Linked DNA regions of Homo sapiens: region 1 is linked to region 2. Evidence: fine-mapped expression QTL. A gene starts in region 2. The other region holds a variant in brackets. All regions are shown on one strand. Distances are between the middles of the regions.

Region 1 (11,992 bases), 110 kb after region 2:
ACATCACTTTCCAGGGAGTGGTGGAATTGGCCCCAGAGGGCAGAAACATCTGGAAAGTAGAAAGTAGGCACATATTACTCTTGGAACCCTCACGCACACCGTGCGCTCACTAATCGGCATGGGGTCACCTTTAAGACCAATGGAAGTGAAACCCGGAAGCAAGGCAAGGCCTGGGGGAGGGGCTGGGATCTGGAGTGGAGCCAATGCCTGGAAGCAAGCCCCTACTAAACTCCATGCATTGAGACACACACTGTCCTAGGGGACTGGCAGGAGAAATGTTTTTAGCACACTAAGTCCTCACTTAACGTCTTTGATAGGATCTCTGAAACTGAGATTTTCAGCAAAACAACATGTAACAAAACCAGTTTGACCATGGGCTAATTGATATAAACAAGAGTTAAGTTCCTATGGCATAATTCTGGTCACAAAATCATTCCCAACTTCTAAAGAAAGACCCAAAACACTCTAATAGCAAACACTGAAATAAATGTAGGATACACATATATCTAATAAATATTAATAAAAACAAGTAAGAATTATTTACTAAACTTTTGGTGAATCAGTGAGTGAGTTAAATCAAGGAATAAATATATGCAAAGCAAACATTGTCAGAAGCACCTCCTACCACCACTCAGTTCAAACACCAACAGTCACAAATACGGTGGCTTGCTCAGCGCTTTCGTACCAAATTGTTTATTGTTGTGCATTTGTAGGATTATTGTGGACTTTATGAATTATTATTTTATAATAATTCATGCTCATTCATTTATTCATTTTCCAACTTGCTTACTCCAGGTCAGGGTCGTGGGTGGCTAGAGCCGGTCCCTGTAGCTCAGGGCACAAGGTGGGAACCCACCCTGGCCAGGACACCATCCTACCTTGGGACACACTCACTCACACACCCACACAGACTCAAACTGGGACAACTGAGGGCGCCCATTCACCTGCAGCATATCTTTGGGATGTGGGATGAGACTGGGGTACCCAGAGAAAACCTGCGCAGACACAGGGGAACGTACAAACTCCATACACACACAGTGGCCCCAACCGGGAATGGATTTTTTTTTCATCAACATTACAACAAAACAGTGTTGAACAAAATGACCATATTTGAGGGCCTGCTGTACCAATTTCCTGGAAAGCAAGTCATCAATATTTATCAGGACTCTGAAAAATGTTCATGTTTTCTATCATGCTGTAATTCCACTTTTAGGACTCTAAATGAAGGAAATAATTGTACGTGAACACAAATATGTAAGTACAGGGTTTGTATACATTAGTTACATACATATATAAGTATGTATCATTAACTATAATAGCAAAAAATTAAAAATTAGAGACCAAAAAAGTAAATGCCACTATTATGGGAATGATTACGAGTTGGTTATATAAACAAATTATGGCAATCTATGTGACAAAATAAGGAAGTTCTAAAAATCACGTTTACAAAGAATGCTTACTCATAATGCTAAGAAAAAAATGTAGAAAACAAAGTTATAAGAAGGGAATGACTGCAGCTATATTGAAGAAAAAAGCCTGGAAGGAAATATGGTAAATATGAGTTGTGTCTAAGTGGTAAGATTCTGGGTGATTTTTACTTTATGCCATATTTTTAAAATATTTTGTAATGAATCTGAATTACTTTTGTAATCAGAAAAACAGAGAAACATCTTTTCAATCTCAGCACCCCAGAACCCTCCTAGCTGACTTGCCTAGACATGGCCTATAAACACTCGGGCTCAGCATCTGATCTCGGACCAAGGCATGTTTTTACGTTTCTATGGCTTTCTCAATGCTGCTGTCTACTTGACCTGTGACCTTGAACCTCTTATAACCTCAGTTTCCACATCAGCAAAATGGTCACATCAGCAGTTCTCAATCTCCTACCTTCTGTGTCTTCAGATCCTAGTTGTTCCCAGTCTCAGTTAATGAAAGACCTCTCCATAATGGCCTAAGGGGCCCTAGCCTGGGTGAGCTCCTGGGACTGCTCTGATATTTTTTTTTCACACTGAAGTATGTAGATTTTTGTTGTTGTTGTTGTTTATATACTTTAAGTTCTATGGTGCATGTGTACAACGTGCAGGTTTGTTACATATGTATACATGTGCTGTGTTGGTTTGCTGCACCCATTAATTCTTCATTTACATTAGGTATTTCTCCTAATGCTATCCCTCCCCCACTCAGCCTCGAAGTTTGGAGTTGCAAACGGGAATGGCTTCAAGGGGCAGCCAGGCTGCTGGGATATTCCCAGACAGCTCCCAAATGTGTTTGCTTTAACCTACAAGCCAACTCTTCCCTAGTGTGAACTTGCTGCTCAGCCGCTCACCCAGGACCCAGAACGCATGTCCTAGACTGGCTTCCATGAGAAAAGCACTCATCCCAAGTGGGTCTGTCAGAGTCCTAGCAGGAAACAGCCATCTCACTCAAACCAGGATTATTTGGGGGTGTGTTCAATGGAGGGAAATTTTGTCAAGGTATGGGCAAGGCTTATAGAAACCCCAAGGGATTATGTGACTCCCTAGAGCTATTAACAGCAGGGGCCAAGGAAGGAGCAGCTTCAGGAACCAGGAGACAGAGAAGGCTGTGGAGAAAGGCCGCTCCATCACGGCTGAGGTCTTCTGTCGAGAGACCCAACCAGCCCAAGGCAATGCAGCAGTTGGGGGATAGGGAAACTAGTATCCCCAGCCTCACTTTTCTCCCTCCCAGGCTTAAATGAAAGCTCCTTGTTGGCCAAAGCCAAGTAAAGCCCCCAACTTAGGCAGTTTGGGCAGCTACAGAAGAATACCATAGACTAGGTGCCTTATAAACAACAGAAATTTATTTCTCCCAGTCCGGAAGCTGGAAGTCCGAGATCAAGGTGCTGGCAGATCTGGTGTCTAGGAAGGGCCTGCTTCCTGGTTTGCAGATGGTCACCTTCTTGTTGTATCCCCAAGTGATGGAGAGTAGAGAGCAAGATCAAACCCTTGCATCTCTTCTTATAAGGGCACTAATCCCGTTCATGAAGGCTCCATGCTCATGACCTGATTACTCCCCAAAGTAAAGTGCATTCATATTCAGGGTTAGGATTTCAACCTACGAATATTGGTGGGACACATTCAGGGTATTGTGCTCCCCATTGGCCAAACCCTCAAAAAAGCCAGAGGGCAAGGAGGTCCATGCAGGACAGCCTCCCAGGGCCCAGTCTAGAGTGGAGAGGGGTCCGGAGAGGATCCAGAGAAGCAAAAAGAAAAGATTCATCCACCAAGCATTTGAGGATTTCTCAACAGTTTCCCCTGACAACGTGGGCAGGTCCATGTCACCCTGCACCCAAGATCTCCCTTGAAAGTTCTCCACCCGGCACATGGGCATGGGCATTCCCCAGGCCCTTCTCTGCAGTGCTGGCTTTCTCTCTCTCTCCTGCCACTCCTTCACACAGTGGTCAGTTTGCCCAATCCAATCACTCCCTTCCCGATGTCAAACTTATCTCTCCTTAATTATGCAGAGTAATTTAGAGAGCATCCTGCCCCCTGTGCCAGAGGATCACCACAGTGTCTCTTCCCGGCCAGACAGTGCTCTCCCGAGAGGCAATCTAGCACGTAGCTTTCTCATCTCATCTCACATTTTTGGCATTCACATTGCACGACTCAAACTGATTATTAGCTGCCAAACCTTGTTTGAGGAGTGTTGCAAAAATAATTTTCCCTAATTGATCTGGATAAACATGTGTCTGTCAATATAAATCCCATCTCTTCATGGATGGTTTGCTGCATCTGCAGCTATCTGCTTCAGGGCAAAACTAAAGAGGATTTTCTGCAGCTGTAAGGGGCAGCCGCTGAGTGGATCCTTCTTTGAGAAAACTTTCTCTGAGCCAAGCTGGAGGAATGAGAAGAATAACCAGATGCTTCGAGCCAGGAAGATTGTCATGTTTGTAAAATCAGATTGGATTTGTTCCCCTGCAAGAATTTGGACTCCCTGTGCCCACCAATGACCACAGAGCCAACGCCACCTGCCCATTGCTGCCCAATGGGCAGACCACACTGGCTTCTGCAGCCCGGGCTGTCCTCATTCACTCTCTTTTTCTCAGGGGAGAGTCTGCACTCTGTACCACCTGGAGAGAGTATGTCCCTTAGAAATAACAGGCATCTTGTCTTCCTCAACAGCCTCCCTGACTGTGAGGCAGGGCGATCAGCAGTGGCTGCTGGGGGCACCAGGAAGGAAGGAAAGTTGGGAGCCTGAGTGTCCTGCCCAGTTTCAGAAAGAACTCAGTCCAGTCTAGACAGAGAATCTCCATTCCAGCCCTTGCATCCTCAGAGGAAACCCTCCAGCCTGGTTTCTTATCAGGTTCACATGTGACATTAAACAGGTCCAAGCTTGCAGTCTTACAAGGAAAGTGGTTGGCTGGGGACACCCGGTGTCCAGTGTGTGCATAAACACTGCCCTGGGTGTTGGTGGTTTTGCTGCCAGGATTCCCCTCCGCTTCTGGAAATGGCACCTGAATTTTCCTGCGGGAAGCGGGGTTTGCCCTCTCCTCAACCAGGATGGGTTTTGATGGGGCAGTTCCCATCCCCTGGACCTGGGCCTGGATAATCAGCTTATTTCAGCACAGGGCCATAGAGACTGGTGTTAGGCTGGCTCAAGCCAGGGTGTTTGGCCCAAGGAGTCTCAGTCCTGGGGCCTTTTGTAGAGCAACCAGGAAAGTCATGAGCTCTTGGCTGCAGGAATGCTGAGAAAGTCATAGCCAGCCTGAAACTAAGGGTGTACCTCTTGCCATTAGCAGGATAGGGAAACGTAGGAGACAGGTAGAAAGAAACATGTTCAACAACATTGCCTGAACCTCTGGGAACACCCCAGCCCAGAGCCAGAACTACACCAGACTTGTCGGTTCTGTGTGCCAGTAAACTGCTTCACCCAGCGTGGGTTGGGTTTCCGTTACTTTCGACCAAGTGTCCTAATGCCCACGTGTACATCTATGTTTTCCTTCTGCTGTTTCACTATTTGTTGGTGGGGTCAGTGACATCTATCTGTCCTCTGTACCCCTACACACCTCCCTCTGTCTGCCTCTGAATGGTCCCGCCCGTCTAGAGCCAGCTGTGTGTTGGGAGGCGAGATCTCAGGCTCAGCCATACCATGTACAGGTGACTGCCTGCTGGCAGGTCTGACATGAGAGTGTGGAAGTGGGGCTCAGAGGCTGCAGGGTCCAGTGCTGGGAGACGCACTCAGAAGGTTCACACCGAGACTGTGCAGTGAAAGGGAGGCAGCGATGGGTTCTAAGGCATGGCAAGTTCACCAGGAGGCACCGATTACAAGACGGGGTGGAGGCCACAGTGAGAGGCTGGCCCTTATGCACAGTTGGGACTGCCAGGGTGGCCAGGGAGGTGAAGACGGAGAAGGACGAAGCCTGCTCTGTGGAGGCACTGGGTGCTTCTTGGCATACCCCAAGCCTCCTCTGGATTTAAAGGGACTCTTTCTTTGATTCCATACTGGAGAACCAGAAGACAGAAGACCCTGGTCCGGCCCAACCTGCTGCATGGCTTTGGGCAGGATGCTCAACCTCTTTGAACCTCAGGTTTCTCATCTTTGAAATGGGTTTCAAAAGAGACGGGCCTCAAAGGACTCCTAAAAGTACGAAACTGAAACGATAGGTGGAATAGAATTGTGTAAACAGGCAGTGTCTCAGTCTGTCTGGGCTTTGATATTGAAGTACTATAGACTGGGTGGCTCATAAACCACAGAAATTCATTTCTCACCGTTCTGAAGGCTGGAAGTCCGAGATCAGAGTGCCAGCATGGTTGAGTTCTGGTGAGGACCCTCTTCCAGGTTGCAGATGGCTGACTTCTCCTGTATCCTCTCCTGGTGGAAAGAGCTAGCTCTCTGGCCTCTTCTTAGGAAAGTTGTTACTAATCCCATTCATAAGAGCTCCACTCTAGTGACTTAATCACCTCCGACAGGCCCCACGTCCTAATGCCATCACCTTGGAGACATGACTGCTGGGAGGACACTTTCAGACCCTAGCAGGCAGTTAGTAGCTGGTGTGGTTTAATAGGCTGTGTTCCTCCATAAGAGAAAGATGGTTCAAAAAAGGCTTTAATGCCTTATCCTTTAGTAAGAATTCACGGTTGTTAGGAGAAAGGATGTAGGATTTTCAGACCAAACGTTTTGAATTTCAATTACGCCTTTCATACTTCCTCTTTTGGAAACGTGGAACAAGACATTTTGCTTTTTTTATATCCATCTGTTTCAACATTTTTCAAATGAGAAAAGGAATCCCAGCTTTCCTCCACATCTGGGGTGGGGATTAAATGAGGGAGAAAGAACTTTGTAATAACAACAAAAATATAAAGTACCCCTTAATGAGCACTTACTTTGTGCGAGGAATTATTTCATTTATGCATCTAAGTCCCACAATGACTCCACACTGTAAAAGTAACAGTAATAATGACAATATGTGACATTGGACTTAGCCGGGCCTGGTGGCACACACCTGTCATCCCAGCTACTTGGGAGGCTGAGGCAGGAGGATTGCTTGAGTCCAGGAGTTTGAGGCTACAGTGAGCCCTGTCGTGCCATTGCACTACAGCCTGGACAAAAGTGAAATCCTATCTCAAAAAAATGAATTAGTAGTAATAATAATTATTGAGTATTTAGTATGTGATATGGTTTTTGGCTGTGTCCCCACCCAAATCTCACCTTGAATAGTAATAGTCCCTACATGTCAAGGGTGGGGTCAGGTGGAGATAATTGAAACATGAGGGCAGCTTCCCCACACTCTTTTTCGTGGTAGTGAATAAGTCTCACGAGATCTGATGGTTTTATAAATGGGAGTTCCCCTAACACATGCCCTCTTACCTGCTGCCATGTAAGACATGTCTTGCTTCCCCTTTGCCTTCTGCCATGATTGTGAGGCCTCCCCAGCCATGTGGAACTGTGAGTTAATTAAACCTCTTTCCTTTATAAATTACGCAGTCTCCGGTATGTCTTTACTAGCCGAGTGAGAACAGATTAATACAGTATGTGCCGGGCTGTGTTCTAAGAGCCTTCCGTTAATTACGTATCTCTAGTCCTCACAACAGGTCTGGGAGGAGTAGGTACTCTTAATACGATCATTTTGCAGATGAGCAGACTAAGTTCGCAGAGATTGATGAGATGGTCTCAGGGCTAGGGTGGGGCTTAGCTAAGATTTATTCAAAGGCAAAAGTTGTTTTACAATTAATCATATACATGTTGTGTGTGTGTATGTACTACATACACCATATCTTGCATAATATGCATTGTAAGTAATTCTAGTCGCACAATGACTGGTAGAGGGGAGGCTCACCCAGGGCTCTACTGGTCACCTTGCCCTGAGCAATGATCACATGCAGGAAGCTGTGGATAGGACCCTTACTTGCCTTCCAAACTGAAGATGTTTCTACTCTCAGGTGTGGCTAAAGAGGTTACCTGGGACCAGTATGAGGAAACTGCCCCCTTGATTCCATTATCTCCACCTGGCCCCACACTTGACACATGGGGATTATTATAATTCAAGGTGAGAT[A/T]TGGGTGGGGACAGAGCCAAACCATATCACATACCAAGTACTCAGTAATTGTTATTACTATTAATTCTTTTTTTTTTTTGAGATAAGGTTTCACTCTGTTGTCCAGGCGGAAGTGCAATGGCACAATTACCAATTACTTGCAAAGAGGCCAAGCTGGCCTCGGCAACAAAGCAACCTGGGCCCACAACTCCTACTGAAGAAGAACAACCCACTTTCACCCAGCAGCTGCTGTGCTGGGACCTCCCAGCTGCAGCCCCAGGCGGCCAAGCTGCTCTCCTTACCCAGCCTCCTCTGACAGTTCCTGATGGAGAAAAGGGGAGCCTGCTGTTGCTGTCAGCTGGTCTGCACATTTGTGCCCTGGGCACCGCTGAGGATAACACACTCACCAGCACACCATGTTGACCGGCACGTTGCATTTCCACCCAGAATTTAAAACCAGGCAGTGGCCTGGCTCTGCACTTCCCGACTCTGTGACTTTGGGCAAGCGATTGAAACCCTCTGGACTTCCGTCTCCTCATCTGTAAAACGGGGATAAAAACAGCCCCTCCTTTATAAGCTTGTTGTGAAGACTTAGGGTCTGACCCTTGAAAAATGGTTAGAATAGTGCCTGTAACTTGGGAAAAGCTTAATAAATGTTTGCCATTGTTAGTACCTGAAGGGATCCCTTAAAAAAGCAAGGAAGTGGGGGAGCAGCCAAGATGGCCGAATAGGAACAGCTCCGGTCTACAGCTCCCAGCGTGAGCGATGCAGAAGACGGGTGATTTCTGCATTTCCATCTGAGGTACCGGGTTCATCTCACTAGGGAGTGCCAGACAGTGGGCGCAGGTCAGTGGGTGCGCGCACCGTGCGCGAGCCGAAGCAGGGCGAGGCATTGCCTCACTCGGGAAGCACAAGGGGTCAGGGAGTTCCCTTTCCTAGTCAAAGAAAGGGGTGACGGATGGCACCTGGAAAATCGGGTCACTCCCACCCTAATACTGCGCTTTTCCGACGGGCTTAAAAAACGGTGCACCACCCACCTGGCTTGGAGGGTCCTACGCCCATGGAGTCTCGCTGATTGCTAGCACAGCAGTCTGAGATCAAACTGCAAGGCGGCAGCGAGGCTGGGGGAGGGGCGCCCGCCATTGCCCAGGCTTGATTAGGTAAACAAAGCAGCCGGGAAGCTCCAACTGGGTGGAGCCCACCACAGCTCAAGGAGGCCTGCCTGCCTCTGTAGGCTCCACCTCTGGGAGCAGGGCACAGACAAACAAAAAGACAGCAGTAACCTCTGCAGACTTAAATGTCCCTGTCTGACAGCTTTGAAGAGAGCAGTGGTTCTCCCAGCACGCAGCTAGAGATCTGAGAACGGGCAGACTGCCTCCTCAAGTGACCCCTGACCCCCGAGCAGCCTAACTGGGAGGCACCTGCCAACAGGGGCACACTGACACCTCACACGGCAGGGTACTCCAACAGACCTGCAGCTGAGGGTCCTGTCTGTTAGAAGGAAAGCTAACAACCAGAAAGGACATCCACACCAAAAACCCATCTGTACATCACCATCATCAAAGACCAAAAGTAGATAAAACCACAAAGATGGGGAAAAAACAGAACAGAAGAACTGGAAACTCTAAAAAGCAGAGCGCCTCTCCTCCTCCAAAGGAACGCAGTTCCTCACCAGCAACGGAACAAAGCTGGAGGGGGAATGACTTTGACGAGCTGAGAGAAGAAGGCTTCAGATGATCAAATTACTCTGAGCTACGGGAGGACATTCAAACCAAAGGCAAAGAAGTTGAAAACTTTGAAAAAAATTTAGAAGAATGTATAACTAGAATAACCAATACGGAGAAGTGCTTAAAGGAGCTGATGGAGCTGAAAACCAAGGCTCGAGAACTACGTGAAGAATGCAGTAGCCTCAGGAGCCGATGCCATCAACTGGAAGAAAGGGTATCAGCAATGGAAGATGAAATGAATGAAATGAAGTGAGAAGGGAAGTTTAGAGAAAAAAGAATAAAAAGAAATAAGCAAAGCCTCCAAGAAATATGGGACTATGTGAAAAGACCAAATCTACGTCTCATTGGTGTACCTGAAAGTGACGGGGAGAATGGAACTAAGTTGGAAAACACTCTGCAGGATATCATCCAGAACTTCCCCAATCTAGCAAGGCAGGCCAATGTTCAGATTCAGGAAATACAGAGAATGCCACAAAGATACTCCTCGAGAAGAGCAACTCCAAGACACATAATTGTCAGATTCACCAAAGTTGAAATGAAGGAAAAAATGTTAAGGGCAGCCAGAGAGAAAGGTCGGATTACCCTCAAAGGGAAGCCCATCAGACTAACAGCAGATCTCTTGGCAGAAACCCTACAGGCCAGAAGAGAGTGGGGGCCAATATTCAACGTTCTTAAAGAAAAGAATTTTCAACCCAGAATTTCATATCCAGCCAAACTAAGCTTCATAAGTGAAGGAGAAATAAAATACAGACAAGCAAATGCTGAGAGATTTTGTCACCACCAGGCCTGCCCTAAAAGAGCTCCTGAAGGAAGTGCTAAACATGGAAAGGAACAACCAGTACCAGCCACTGCAAAATCATGCCAAAATGTAAAGACTATCGAGACTAGGAAGAAACTGCATCAACTAACGAGCAAAATAACCAGCTAACATCATCATGACAGGACCAAATTCACACATAACAATATTAACTTTAAATGTAAATGGACTAAATGCTCCAATTAAAAGACACAGACTGGCAAATTGGATAAAGAGTCAAGACCCATCACTGTGTTGTATTCAGGAAACCCATCTCACGTGCAGAGACACACATAGGCTCAAAATAAAAGGATGGAGGAAAATCTACCAAGCAAATGGAAAACAAAAAATGGCAGGGGTTGCAATCCTAGTCTCTGATAAAACAGACTTTAAACCAACAAAGATCAAAAGAGACAAAGAAGGCCATTACATAATGGTAAAGGGATCAATTCAACAAGAAGAGCTAACTATCCTAAATATATATGCACCCAACACAGGAGCATCCAGATTCATAAAGCAAGTCCTGAGTGACCTACAAAGATACTTAGACTCCCACACATTAATAATGGGAGACTTTAACACCCCACTGTCAACATTAGACAGATCAATGAGACAGAAAGTCAACAAGGATACCCAGGTATTGAACTCAGCTCTGCACCAAGTGGACCTAATAGACATCTACAGAACTCTCCACCCCAAATCAACAGAATATACATTTTTTTCAGCACCACACCACACCTATTCCAAAATTGACCACATACTTGGAAGTAAAGCTCTCCTCAGCAAATGTAAAAGAACAGAAATTATAACAAACTATCTCTCAGACCACAGTGCAATCAAACTAGAACTCAGGATTAAGAATCTCACTCAAAACCACTCAACTACATGGAAACTGAACAACCTGCTCCTGAATGACTACTGGGTACATAACGAAATGAAGGCAGAAATAAAGATGTTCTTTGAAACCAACGAGAACAAAGACACAACATACCAGAATCTCTGGGATGCATTCAAAGCAGTGTGTAGAGGGAAATTTATAGCACTAAATGCCCACAAGAGAAAGCAGGAAAGATCCAAAATTGACACCCTAACATCACAATTAAAAGAACTAGAAAAGCAAGAGCAAACACATTCAAAAGCTAGCAGAAGGCAAGAAATAACTAAAATCAGAGCAGAACTGAAGGAAATAGAGACACAAAAAACCCTTCAAAAAATTAATGAATCCAGGAGCTGGTTTTTTGAAAGGATCAACAAAATTGATAGACCACTAGCAAGACTAATAAAGAAAAAAGAGAGAAGAATCAAATAGATGCAATAAAAAATGATAAAGGGGATATCACCACGGATCCCACAGAAATACAAACTACCATCAGGGAATACTACAAACACCTCTACGCAAATAAACTAGAAAATCTAGAAGAAATGGATAAATTCCTGGACACACACACTCTCCCAAGACTAAACCAGGAAGAAGTTGAATCTCTGAATAGACCAATAACAGGAGCTGAAATTGTGGCAATAATCAATAGCTTACCAACCAAAAAGACTCCAGGACCAGATGGATTCACAGCCGAATTCTACCAGAGGTACAAGGAGGAACTGGTACCATTCCTTCTGAAACTATTCCAATCAATAGAAAAAGAGGGAATCCTCCCTAACTCATTTTATGAGGCCAGCATCATTCTGATACCAAAGCCAGGCAGAGACACAACCAAAAAAGAATTTTAGACCAATATCCTTGATGAACATTGATGCAAAAATCCTCAATAAAATACTGGCAAAACGAATCCAGCAGCACATCAAAAAGCTTATCCACCATGATCAAGTGGGCTTCATCCCTGGGATGCAAGGCTGGTTCAATATATGCAAATCAATAAATGTAATCCAGCATATAAACAGAGCCAAAGACAAAAACCACATGATTATCTCAATAGATGCAGAAAAGGCCTTTGACAAAATTCAACAACCCTTCACGCTAA
Region 2 (11,595 bases):
TTCCTGTTTTGCTTATAATCAACCATCTGCAATCATTATGGAAGCAGTGCAGTATAGGTGAAAGGGTGCAATCTGAAGTTAAAAACTCTGAATTTAAATTTCAGCTCTGCCACTTGCCAGCTGTATGACCTTTGATACAGCCCTGGGACTGTTTGGGATTTCTGTTTTCTCTGAGACTAGTTGTCTTGGAGTTCAAGTAAGATTAGGGCTCTGTCAACCAGGGAGCCCCAGAAGTAGTTATTAGACCAATATGTTCTCCAAGGAGAAGAACTCTTTTATTTACCTTGATGTTTCCAGCACCTATCAGAGGGCTTGGCTTATGGCAAGTATCCCAAAACTCCTTGATAGATGAATGAATGCTTCTAATAATCCCGTGTCAAAAAGCGATGATCCTTGGAGAAATCAGATCTCTACTCTTTCAACTAGGAAAAGATATCCAATTTTCTTCCAAAGAGAAGTGAAGAGGACCTCAGAGCTGGAGTGAGGCTCAGGTGCAATAACTACATTTCCCTCATTCTCCTGAAAAGTCCCAAGTTGTAATGGTCTGTCCAGGTGTCCGGTTAAGTCTCTGAATATAGGTCCCCTGGAACAAGAGGGTCAAGTGTAAGGTTTAAAGTGTCAAAGTCAGAATCCTCAGCTGAGGAGACAGCAACTTCTAGCAGATAGCAGGGATCCCCTCTCTGCCTACAGCAGGTCTTTTTCCAGAAAGAAGGGAATGAGCCACCCCAAGCAACAGCTCCTGACACTCGTGTTCTGAGAAATTCTGAGAAACAGCTGCAATATCTGCCTCCTTAATTGTACCTGGAGCCAAGGGTAAAAATAAGGAGGGGGAGAGACTCTTGTGGTTGGAGCTATTAATAAATAGTGTTAACTTAATAAAATTAGTATTATTTCATGGAACAATGATTTTTCAAGATGGGGCAAGGAGGGTGGCTGGGAAGGGAGTGGGAAATGACTTCACTGGGCAGGCTTTTGCCTCGTTTGAAAGGGATAAAGCTTGCCTTTGTTATATTCCTGGCTTCTGTTCCCACAGCTCTAAAATATAAAGGCTTCTGGCATGACATCCTGATTTAGCACTATTGTTCCTAGGATTTGCTACTGAAAGGACTATTCATGTGGAAACCTCCTCTCCCAGGCCAGGCTTCTGTTGGCCACTGTTTATTTACATACTGGTTTAACATGCAGCCTACCTTGGAAGTTTGGACAAACCAGGCCAGGTGTGCCATTGCACCATCTCTCCCTATTCTTACTTTGCCTGCTTACTGCATGGAGGTAGAGAGTAGAAGAAGGTTACCAGAGGTTGGGAAATGGTGGGCTGGGGTGTGAGGGGATGAACAGAGGTTGGTTAATGCGAACAAACACTGTCTGATAGCAAGAAAAAGTCTAGCATTCAACAGCACAGTAGGGTGACTATAGTCAACAACAGTGAATTGTATACTTCAAAATAGCTAAAAGAGGCTAGGTGCGGTGGCTCACTCCTGTAATTCCAGCACTTTGGGATGCCAAGGTAGGAGGATCACTTGAGGTCAGGAGTTCAAGACCAGCCTGGCCAATATGGTGAAACTCTGTCTCTACTAAAAATACAAAAATGAGCCAGGTATGGTGGCTCATGCCTGTAGTCCCAGCTTCTTGGGAAGCCGAGGTGGGAGACTCACTTGAACCTGGGAGGCAGAGGTCACAGTGAGCCGAGATCGCGCCACTGCATTCCAGCCTGGGCAACAGCGCGAGACTCTGTCTCAAAAAAAAAAAAAAAAAAAAAAGAAAAGCTAAAAGTGATTTGACATGTTCCCAGTACAAAGAAATTATAAATGTTCAAGGTGATGGAAATCCTAAACACCCTGATTTGATCATTACACATTGTAAGCATATATCAAAATACCACATGTACAATCATGATGTATCAATAAAAAAAATAAAAGCCAGAACCCAACCTCTATTCATTTGCCAAATGTGTACTGTGCCTATACCACATGCTAGGTGTTTGAGGACATAGCTGGGAGCAAACAAGGCAAAAATCAATTATAGCAGAAATCTGTGAAAAAAGAAATAGGTCATCCCTCATCTTGGAAAAGATAAGCCACAAAAAGCCCTTTCCAGGAATATGTAATAAAAAGTCACAATTCAGGATCCCTGGCTGAGATTTGGGATGACTGGAGATGATGATAAGAACTAAATTGGAGGAGGCTTTCAAGAGGAAAAAGCCTCCAGCAAGAGACAGCCCCACAGTGGGAACTGCAGCCTCCCCTTCTCACCAAATCCCTCCCGAATGGTGTACTTCGGGACCACTCTTCAGTCTCTGTGCAACCGAGTTTTATTTTAGCCCACGGGACCCTGGTTTTTCTGGCAGGGGGCACTGCAAAGACGGGTTACAGGCCGAACACCTCACAACAGAGACAGCAGTATTCTCTCTAGGATAAAAAGGGCTTGTGTTTAATCCTCTGTCAGGGCAGGGGGGAAATGCCTCTGGAATCCAAGTCTGTGGAACCGGCTCAGCAGAGAGATGTGGCTTTATAGGCAAACAACGTGGCATAGAGAGAGGAACCTGGCCAATTCTGTCTTATAAGAGTAGTTATGTTATGCGTTGCAAGGACTCCACATTCCATGGATTTGTGAACTCAGATGGAATCTTGTTTGTCCAGGCCTGCATGACCCCATTTATCTAAAAATTACTAACTTCCTAGTTTATAGTTTACAATCCTGTGCCCGCCGCCTCCCTCCCCCCCCCCGCCACGCCCCCATGAGCTTTCTCTCTATTACTCTCAGTCTCTCAGGTTAAAGCCTTGCTCAGTAATTCAGCTGTGGACCAGTTATTCTGATTATTTCCTCATCTATCGTCTTACAGTCATAATAATAATAATATCTGAGATAATATGAGCATACAACAAGACAGTATGTCCACAGGAGCATCTCTAAGATCAGGACAGTGATTTCTTGCTCATGGAATAAGAAGGATTTATGTTAAAGCAAGTTATAAGAAAGCAGTTTAATACTTTACGAACGTTAAGTTTAAAAAAATCATAACTCGCTGGAATCTTTTCTCCTCTCTGGATATTGGAGAACTCGCCCAGGTTTGGGAAACGTTAGCCAGCTCCTGCAAAACACCTCCTCCCTCAGCCCTCCCCGCGCCCCCTACGACCAGGCAGAAAGGGTGGGAAGGGGAGCACAGCTCAGCATTTATTTCTGGATCCAGCTCACTAAAAATACCTCGGCTCTCCTGTTTGATCACTCTCCCTTTTGACCTGAATGGATCGCGGGAGCCGCGCCGCCCGCCCCACCTTCGGCCCGTTGCCCTTTAAAGGAAAAGGGCGTGGGGACGGATTCCTGCCGCTCGAGGGATAGAAGGGAGCTGGGTAGTCAGGGGCCGCGGCCATGCTGACGTCAGGGCAGCCGGCGCTCAGCTCCGCTCGCTGCCACAGTGCAGAGACCTCCCTGAGGGAGGGGGACAGCCTCGCGCTGGGATTGGCTGGCCTCGCGCGAGCGCCGGCGCGGAGTGGCTGGCGAGGTTTTAGAGGGAGTCCCGCTCTCCAATTAAAGCGGCCCAGCTGCGCCTGGCTGCGCACAGAGCTCCCTCCCAGGCCCGCGAACTTGGCCATTCAGCCGCCGCTGTCCCCGCTGCGCGCCCTCGCGCCTCTGCCTGAGAAGCCAGGCGCTGTTCCCCCACCCCAGAAGAGGATGGCAAAGGTGGCTAAGGACCTCAACCCAGGAGTTAAAAAGGTGAGTGGAAAGCTGTTTGTATTTACCCAGATTCTTACTTTTTCTTGTTCCCCTTCCCATCTGTTCGCGGAAACTTCCCAAAAGGTAATGAGAAGGGAACTCTTTAAATTCCAAAACTGCATGGAAAACAAATAGTTGGGAATACATGTTTGAGCTAACAGGCACACACACCCCAAACCCAATGTTGTGTAAAATATTTGCAAAGGGTCTTATGTCTTTGGTGATGCTAGTTAAAGTTTAATTAAGGTTTTACATATATATACAATATATATAAAATGTATATAAAATATATATATAAAATATATATAATATATATTATATATAATATATAAAATATATATTATATATAATATATATTATATATAAAATATATAATATATATTATATAAAATATATATAATATATATTATATATAAAATATATATAATATATAATATATATATATGAAATCTTATGGTCTGTAAAGGAAAAACCCCTAGCTTCCTCACTCCCTGTCCTCAGGTGGCTGAAGTAAGGGTTGAGAGCATGTAATATTTACTCACAGTCTCCCTTTTGCTATTATCCCAGTGTTTTGTGTGTTTCCCCCAATACACACACACACACACACACACACACACACACACACACGCACGCAGTTTCTTTAGTTGGTGATGTTGGCAGTGGCAGCAGTTCCAGCATAAGGGAACTGATTTCTGTCCCCAGGGTCTGCACGTTTCCCTTACAAGAAGGGCTGGCCCGGAGCCCAGAAGGTCATGGGTAAACTCCTGCACAGGAGCCTGCGGCTGTGCCTATAGCTCCAATACCACTTGTTGCCTACCTGAATGCAGCTGGGAGAAGGCACAGGCTGGAGACTTAGAGAACATGTGAACGGGAAGGGAACAGAGAGACAACCTAGGCTTTACAGATCGGGAAACTGAGGCCCGGGGTCACAGAGAGTTGGTTCTAACAGGCAGCTGACTGTAAGGCAAGCCCTAGGCATCCAGACTCAGTCCCTGCCACTTTTTAACTGCACATGATTCACCAGGTCACTTTTCTGAGCCTCAGTTTCCTTGTCTCTGATGTGGGGAGGATAGGCCTAACCTCCCTCATGGCAGTGGTAGCAGGGATACTGACACTGTGAGTTAATTTCCCAAAGCAGTCATTGTTAAACTCTGATTTCACAGGGTTTAGTCTTGAAGGGCAAAGTCTTCCTTAAATATCTGCCATTAACCTGCAGGGTAGAATGAGAGGGGGAAAAACAAAAGACGTGAGAATCAAACTAAAGACACAAACAGCCACTCAGAGGCACAGCATGCACTGTCTAATTTGTAGCTGTGCTCTTCTGTAGACCACCTGCCCAGACCCTGTCACAGAGTCCAGTGGATCCTTCTAAATGTGGGTACCAAGTCACATTGAATCTGGGCATTTGTCTGGAATGTATCATGCCTCACTGCATTTGCCAAGCTATTTGCAGAATCAAGTCATTTCCCCTCCTACAGAAATTACCATAACATTTTAGACTCTTAGAAGATACCTATTAATTGCTACCTAGTAGTGAGTTATGCATGCAATGCTCTTATTTCTCTATACATTTTTCTGGACTCCTTGAGGGCAAACCTGTCTTGTTCATCCCTGTTTGAACATAGCACACCATGCCACACAGCAGGACTCAAAAACCTGTGGGTGACTCATGAGAATATCTGTCCAGCTAAGACCACACTGTTTGCATAGGCTTCATTTTATGCATTATTTTTTAACTTGTAGCATTGATATTTGTGTGTCTGAACTGCCTCCCCAAGTTCAGACACAGAATAGTTCACGGCTAAAGGTGGCAGAGTTCCATTGTCCTCTGGAAAGTGAAATGATTCTGAGTATTTTTAATATAAGCTGGTTGATAGTTACTGTATGAGGTGAGATGAGGTATATGGAGACTCCTCCTCCTCACCACAGTCCTGTGTTGCCACTTGGAGGAAGCCTTGTTTTTATTTTCCTTTGCATAGGGGAGTGTGATTATCCTGATTAGAGGTGGAACATGTTCTCCTTCTTGTCACCCCCTAGTGCCAACTTCCTTGGCCTGCAAAGGGTTTGTTTTCCATTTAGATCCAATTACAGGCTTAGAGAAAGAATGTGGTGGGTAGAGATGAAAGGGCAGATTTTTTTTATCTCTTGGGACTGCGACAATCAGGAGGAAGATCACCATTTTGTAGGTTAACCAATGCCTTCAACTCAAAATGTGGAGGGGAGGGAGGAGAGCCGAGAAGCTCCCCTTGCTGAACTGAATGTCACAGAAGTGATTAAGTACTACGTGATATCAGCAACACGCTGAAAAGCTTTTACTGCATATTTATTTTTTAAATCTGCAACAGTATGTGGGGGAGGTTTATAACATTTGGCTTCAGGATGCATAATCGCACTTAGACATTTTGAAACAATTTCATAGACTCTTAGAGCTACAAGGGGCCTATTTACAAAATGAGAAATGGTTTAAAATGGCATACAGGCTGTTTCCGCTTCCCTACCCCCGAGGGGGCTGGGGCGGGAATCCCCACCAACTGGAAAGTCATAAAAAGATCTTCAGCAAAGAACATAAAATCTAAAAACTGGAGTAGACTTAAAGGTCATCTAACCAACCCCAGACAGGCTGGGGAAAGAGACTCACTGGGGGCCACATACATACATCGTGGCAGAGCTTACAAGTTCCCTAACTTCTCTCTTTCTTTCTAAGTAAAATGCTTCCACCGGCTGCTCTTGAACCATCTTTTTTTTTCTATTAGGAAAGAGAAGGTTTCCTAGCACAGACAGTTCCCTGAGAATGGTGAAATCGCCAACATTTCTTGGTAACAAAGGGCCTTGAAGGCCAAATGCCATTTTTCTGGGTGAAACCAATCTCGACTATGGATTTGTTCTTGTTTATTAAGGATGCAAGTTATTAGTGCAGGCTTTGGCTTCAGATCTGGTTTAAGTCCCAGCTCCCCCACTTACTAGCTGTGTGCTCTTGGGCAAGCTAATTAACTTTGAGTCAGTATCCTCACCTCATTTGAAAGTTGAAGAAACAGTAACAGCATCTACCTCCCAAGATGGCTGTGATAATTAAGTGAGATGATGTACATAAAAGGCTCAGCATATGGGCACTCAGAGTTAGCCATGGCAGTCCTTGGTGGTGGCGGTACATTTCAGTGGGTGCATGGATGCGGAAAGGAATTTTCTGGTGAATGAGGACACTTTTATTTATAACTGCCCCATCTGAAGAGCACCTAACTTTCATTCAGCTGAACCTAAGCCATTGCTCAGCTTTGACAAGCTAAGACAATGACCAAATGCTGTTGCCTTCATTCTCACCCAACGGGTGCAAAATCTGCTTACATGGAACAGTCTTTCCTTCTGAACATGGATTGCCAGTTATTGAGCATTTCACTTTGGAGTTATATAATGTTAGGCCTCGAAGGGGACTTGGAGTGCCTTACTTTTTAGATAAGGAAACTGAGGCCCAGAGGGATCAAGCTCCTTATCAGAAGTTGCAGAGAAAATGTACTGAAGCCTATTAGGCTCTGCAAGAATACAGACCCCTTGACTGTCAAGGAACCATCTGTAGGAATTTAGAAGGGATTAGAAGAAAGAGAGCTAGGAACCTGTTCATAGTTGACTGTGCAGTCACCAGTGGGCTGGCTCCAGAGGGATCCAATTAGAAATTCTCACCCCTCAACACAATGCCCAAGGGGCATTAAATGATGGTACTTCTAAGTCCATTGCCAGGTCCACCTGGATGTCTCTCTCCATGCTTCTCTACATCACATCCCTCTTGGCTTTCCTGTCCTTCAGGCTAGGCCTTCCCTCTGTACTCAGCCCTTCCTGCTTTCACCTCCACTTCCTGCAGTGTGCCAAACTACTGGCACATCACCCGGGTGAGCTGATCCAATGTAAACACAGCTCCTCGTGAATTGTCGTTGGCTCTCTCAATCTTAAAAACATATTAAACTGTCACTTAAAGACCTTAATAGCCAAGACATTGGAGACATGCCCATAGGTGTATAAGCAACTTTTTTGCCATAATAGAGCCTTGTTTTTTAAAAACAGAAATTATCCAAGTCCCTTTTACATGCTTTCTAAAAACAGATGCTGAAACCATTACTTTGTGAATTGCAGATTTTTGTCCTAAGCTGCAGGTGTGTCTGACTATGCGGAGTTGGGGGCTGACAGTTGACTTTCACCAATGTATCTGCCACTGTGGTAGTGGGAGGCAGGAAAGAGCTTCATCAGATTATCTTCAGGCTTTAATCTAAGCATCTCAGCTCCAAGGCTAGGAATTTGCTCAGAGCTTACCAACACTCCTACGAGTTGGAAAGTGGAAAAATGACTTTGGCATTCCCCTCTGAGGATGCTTGGTTTGATCCTCTCTTCATGCTAACTGACCAAAGGTGACAAGGATGAAAAAAGAATAGGCTGAATTCAGCAAAGGCTGGGGACCAGGAAGGAGGGGCTGCACACAGGCTTTTGTGTGTGTCTTTCCTTCCGCCCTTACGCAGGCCACTTCCCAAGAGGAAAAGGTAAAGAGTAGAGAAGTAAGGGAATAGTTCCTCTCGCAACTCACTAGAGCTGACAGGGCTCCAGGAGAAGTATTCAATTTGACTTTAGGAAGGCAAATCGTCCTCTTTTTAGCTTGCACATTCAAAATAGTTTGTGTCTCATAAAGTGGAGATTTGCCTTGATAAGTAACAGACCTTGAGAGCTCTTATCTCCCAACCATTCATCCAACACCATTTAAATCTTTATTTTAAGAACAGATTTCTGGCAGGGGCGTGAGTCATTATAATAACTGCAGGCGTTTACTCACTGGGTGACTTTGGATAGGTCACCTTTCCTAGGAAGTGGCAGAATTTGGATGAGAACCAGGGTTCCTTCTGCCTCCAGCCCACTGACTTTTCCTTTACACCAGATCATCTCCCAAATAACAAATGATTATGACAAAATAGGCTTAAAACTTCGTTCCACTGAAAGCGGAATTGTGGAGCAGCTTTTCAGGACATCCAAAATGAAGAGACAGCTGTTGCTCTTGAAGAGCCTTCGTTTAGAAATATCCTCATATCCCCTACCATTTGATAACAGGAAGAGGATTTGGCCAGCAGCTGCTACTGTCTCACCAGGTGCAGGGCCACCAGCCACTTTTGCAGGACTCCTTCAAGAGCACAACATTTCCTTAAATCCACGTGGAACAATTGGTGTGTCCCAAACCATTGTTGGATGTTTACATATAGCAATAGCATAGATCTGCAAAAGCTCTAGAAAATGCTCTCTATAAAACTTTTATAGAAAGAGTTACATATGAAGTTGAGTCTCCTGTGTTCACCAAGGCTCCTTTAGTGGCTGAAACACAAATTTAGTATCTAATCCTGTATATTTGATGCAGAAATTGTGTTTTCACAAAAACAGAAGAGACAAATCAATTGTAGTGCTTTGTGAAACTCCCAAATCAACTCCTTGTCTCATATCTGCTCTTCTGTATGAGAAGCAAACCCTTTTACATTTTTTTCTCAGAAAAGAGAAAGGAGTCTGTTCTTACTTTTATTATCTATTTGGATTCTTGCCTCCCAACAGACTTGTTCTCTGTTAGGACAGGCAAGTTTGGGGCTAGGCAAAAGAGAGGAAGGAAAGACATCTCTAAGGGTCCGGAGATGATTGACATTTTCCTGTGTGTTAGCTCTTTAGCTTCAAGGACTACCATGCAAAAATATTGGTGTCCTTTTTTACACATGAGTAAGTTAAGACTAAGAGTTTGAAACGACTTGTCTAAGGTCACATAATGACAGATTAAGAACTCAAACTCAGGCCTCTCTGACTCCAAAACTTCAGTTCTTTTCACTCTGCAAGAAACAGAAGGCATTCGTAGAAAGCAGAAATCTGGTGAGGAGGGACTATGATTATTACTGTGACTTTCATACACAGATCAATTTCTTCCAGCCCACTGAACTCATTGATAGTCTGGTTCAGAAGCTTCCCAGCATTTGCAAAATGTTGCTAGGCACCTGTATCTCTTTGATATCTCTTGGTCACCACCAGGAGTATACTGTCACCTACACCAAATCAGAGCCATTTCTCGGGTATAGAATAAAGACTTTCTTGATTTCTCCTGGTTTTCCAGAAGGCTAATGGACATCTCCCGGCAGAAGACTAGTAGAGAGACCTTTTAAAGAATAATACATGTTATCCTAATACTCTAAAAATAATTCTAGAGACCTTGTCCCAGAGCTTTCAGGAAACTCTGCCCTGGGGATAAGGTTGGCCTTGACATGTGCATTTCTACATGTCTAGTCAGCCTGACCCATGGCCTACCCAATAATATATAAATCATGACCAAGCCAAACATGGCCTGGGCCCCCACCGGGACATGCTTTAAAAGGAAATATAATTGCTAAGGGAGAAGAAACAAAGGCTCCATTTGGCAAGTAACTCTATTGAAGGACAAAGGAGTGCCAGTGTCCAACTCAAGGTGGCTGTTTCAAATCCACATGCTTTGTGTATAGATTTTGTCTCCTCCTCCTGTTTAAAAAATATTGAATCCTTTGTAAAATTTATCTCTGGAGACAAAGGCTAATGAGCCATTGTCTAAAAGAGCTGAGCAGAATCTTGTTATCTGCTCATTCAACCCCTTCATGTCACAAATGGGACAGGGGGAGAAATGGCATATCTGAAATTTACAAAGAAAAAAATGGCACATCTGAACTTTACATAAGAAATGGCATATCTGAAATTTACAAACTTACATTTACATGAGTGGTGCCACAACCAAGATACATTGACTCACAGCATCTTTTATGAATGAAGGAGAAAAGAGTGTCTGCTGTATTCTGTCACTTCCACCCCCAGAGTATCCCAGTTTTGTGTCAACCTCATACCTTGAAACTCAGAAGTTCAGGTGGACATTTTGGCTGTGAACTTAGCTTTGGCCACAAGGTCCAGAAGCCACTTCGAGGAGCCGTTAAACACACAACATTTGCAAGCACAAAGATCTAGATGTGACCTGCAGCTCTTCAATTTGCCAGGTCTGCAAACTTCGCCAAGTTACTGATCCTCTCTGGACCTCTGGTTCCTCATTTGAGAAAGATAGCTCACCGTAGTTCTACATTTAAACGATAGTTTAATGAGGTAAAGTGCATAAAGTGCCTGGATACATAATATACCCTTGATAAACATTTCCTCCTGCTGTTATGGATACCCCCTCTCATCAGCATGATGCAAAAATCCCATAGGTTATTAAGTATTGGGATGTGGAAGACCAAATTCAGTTTACCTACATCACATGGGGCTTCTAAGCTCTCAGACTGCAGGACCTTCTCTTTGTAGTTAAACTTGGACCTAGCCATAAATATACTCAGGCCACATCACATTGCAAAATCATGAGAATAGCCACAATTCGTCTTGGGTGTTTGGTCGCTACCCTTTCCATAGCAGCCCTCCCCTGCTCCATTACCAGTCTTTCCCTCCAATGTCTTGCTTATAAGATAGGGCAACAGTCACTCATTTCTTTATATAGCAAATATTTATTTAGCATCTGTTATGTGCCAGCCACTGTGCTAAGTACTGAATACATGACAATGAATAGGAAAGCTTTGATCCCTGCCAAGTAAACTTGAGTCTGGTAGAATTTATTTTTCATAAGGCAGGAGACAGGCCAAATAATGTCAGTGTTCTGTGAGTCTTTGTGTTCCTTGACCTCTCCCCTCCCCAACACACACACATACCTCTCCTTCCTTTTCCAACCACCCTCAGATTTTCCAGGACACACACCTTCAGAGCCACATCTCAACTCTGGTCATCCCTACAGTGTAACAGTAGAATGAGTGTAGTAGTCCTCCCAGTTGTCACATTTTAAATAGGGCCTTTGGGAAGAAACCACCAGTGGCACTG

What was found. PIP is the estimated chance that this variant, and not a neighbour inherited with it, causes the effect.
Region 1: its variant is fine-mapped to the expression of LMCD1-AS1 in nasal epithelium (TOPMed, PIP above 0.99).

Annotation. Positions count from the first base shown.
Region 1 is chr3:8,603,331-8,615,322 of GRCh38, forward strand. It overlaps LOC107986009 (a long non-coding RNA gene), which reads right to left and starts at 8,613. Exons shown (of 5, transcript XR_001740420.3): 1 at 8,528-8,613; 2 at 7,898-8,029; 3 at 5,727-6,262; 4 at 1-49. RefSeq lists enhancers at 7,348-8,229, 8,230-9,110. The variant A/T (reference allele first, on the strand shown) is at 7,512.
Region 2 is chr3:8,498,267-8,509,861 of GRCh38, forward strand. LMCD1-AS1 (LMCD1 antisense RNA 1) reads right to left here and starts at 3,392. Exons shown (of 4, transcript NR_033378.1): 1 at 3,205-3,392; 2 at 284-583. It overlaps LMCD1 (LIM and cysteine rich domains 1), which reads left to right and starts at 3,557. Exons shown (of 6, transcript NM_014583.4): 1 at 3,557-3,714. The coding sequence starts at 3,673. RefSeq lists enhancers at 211-1,144, 1,145-2,078.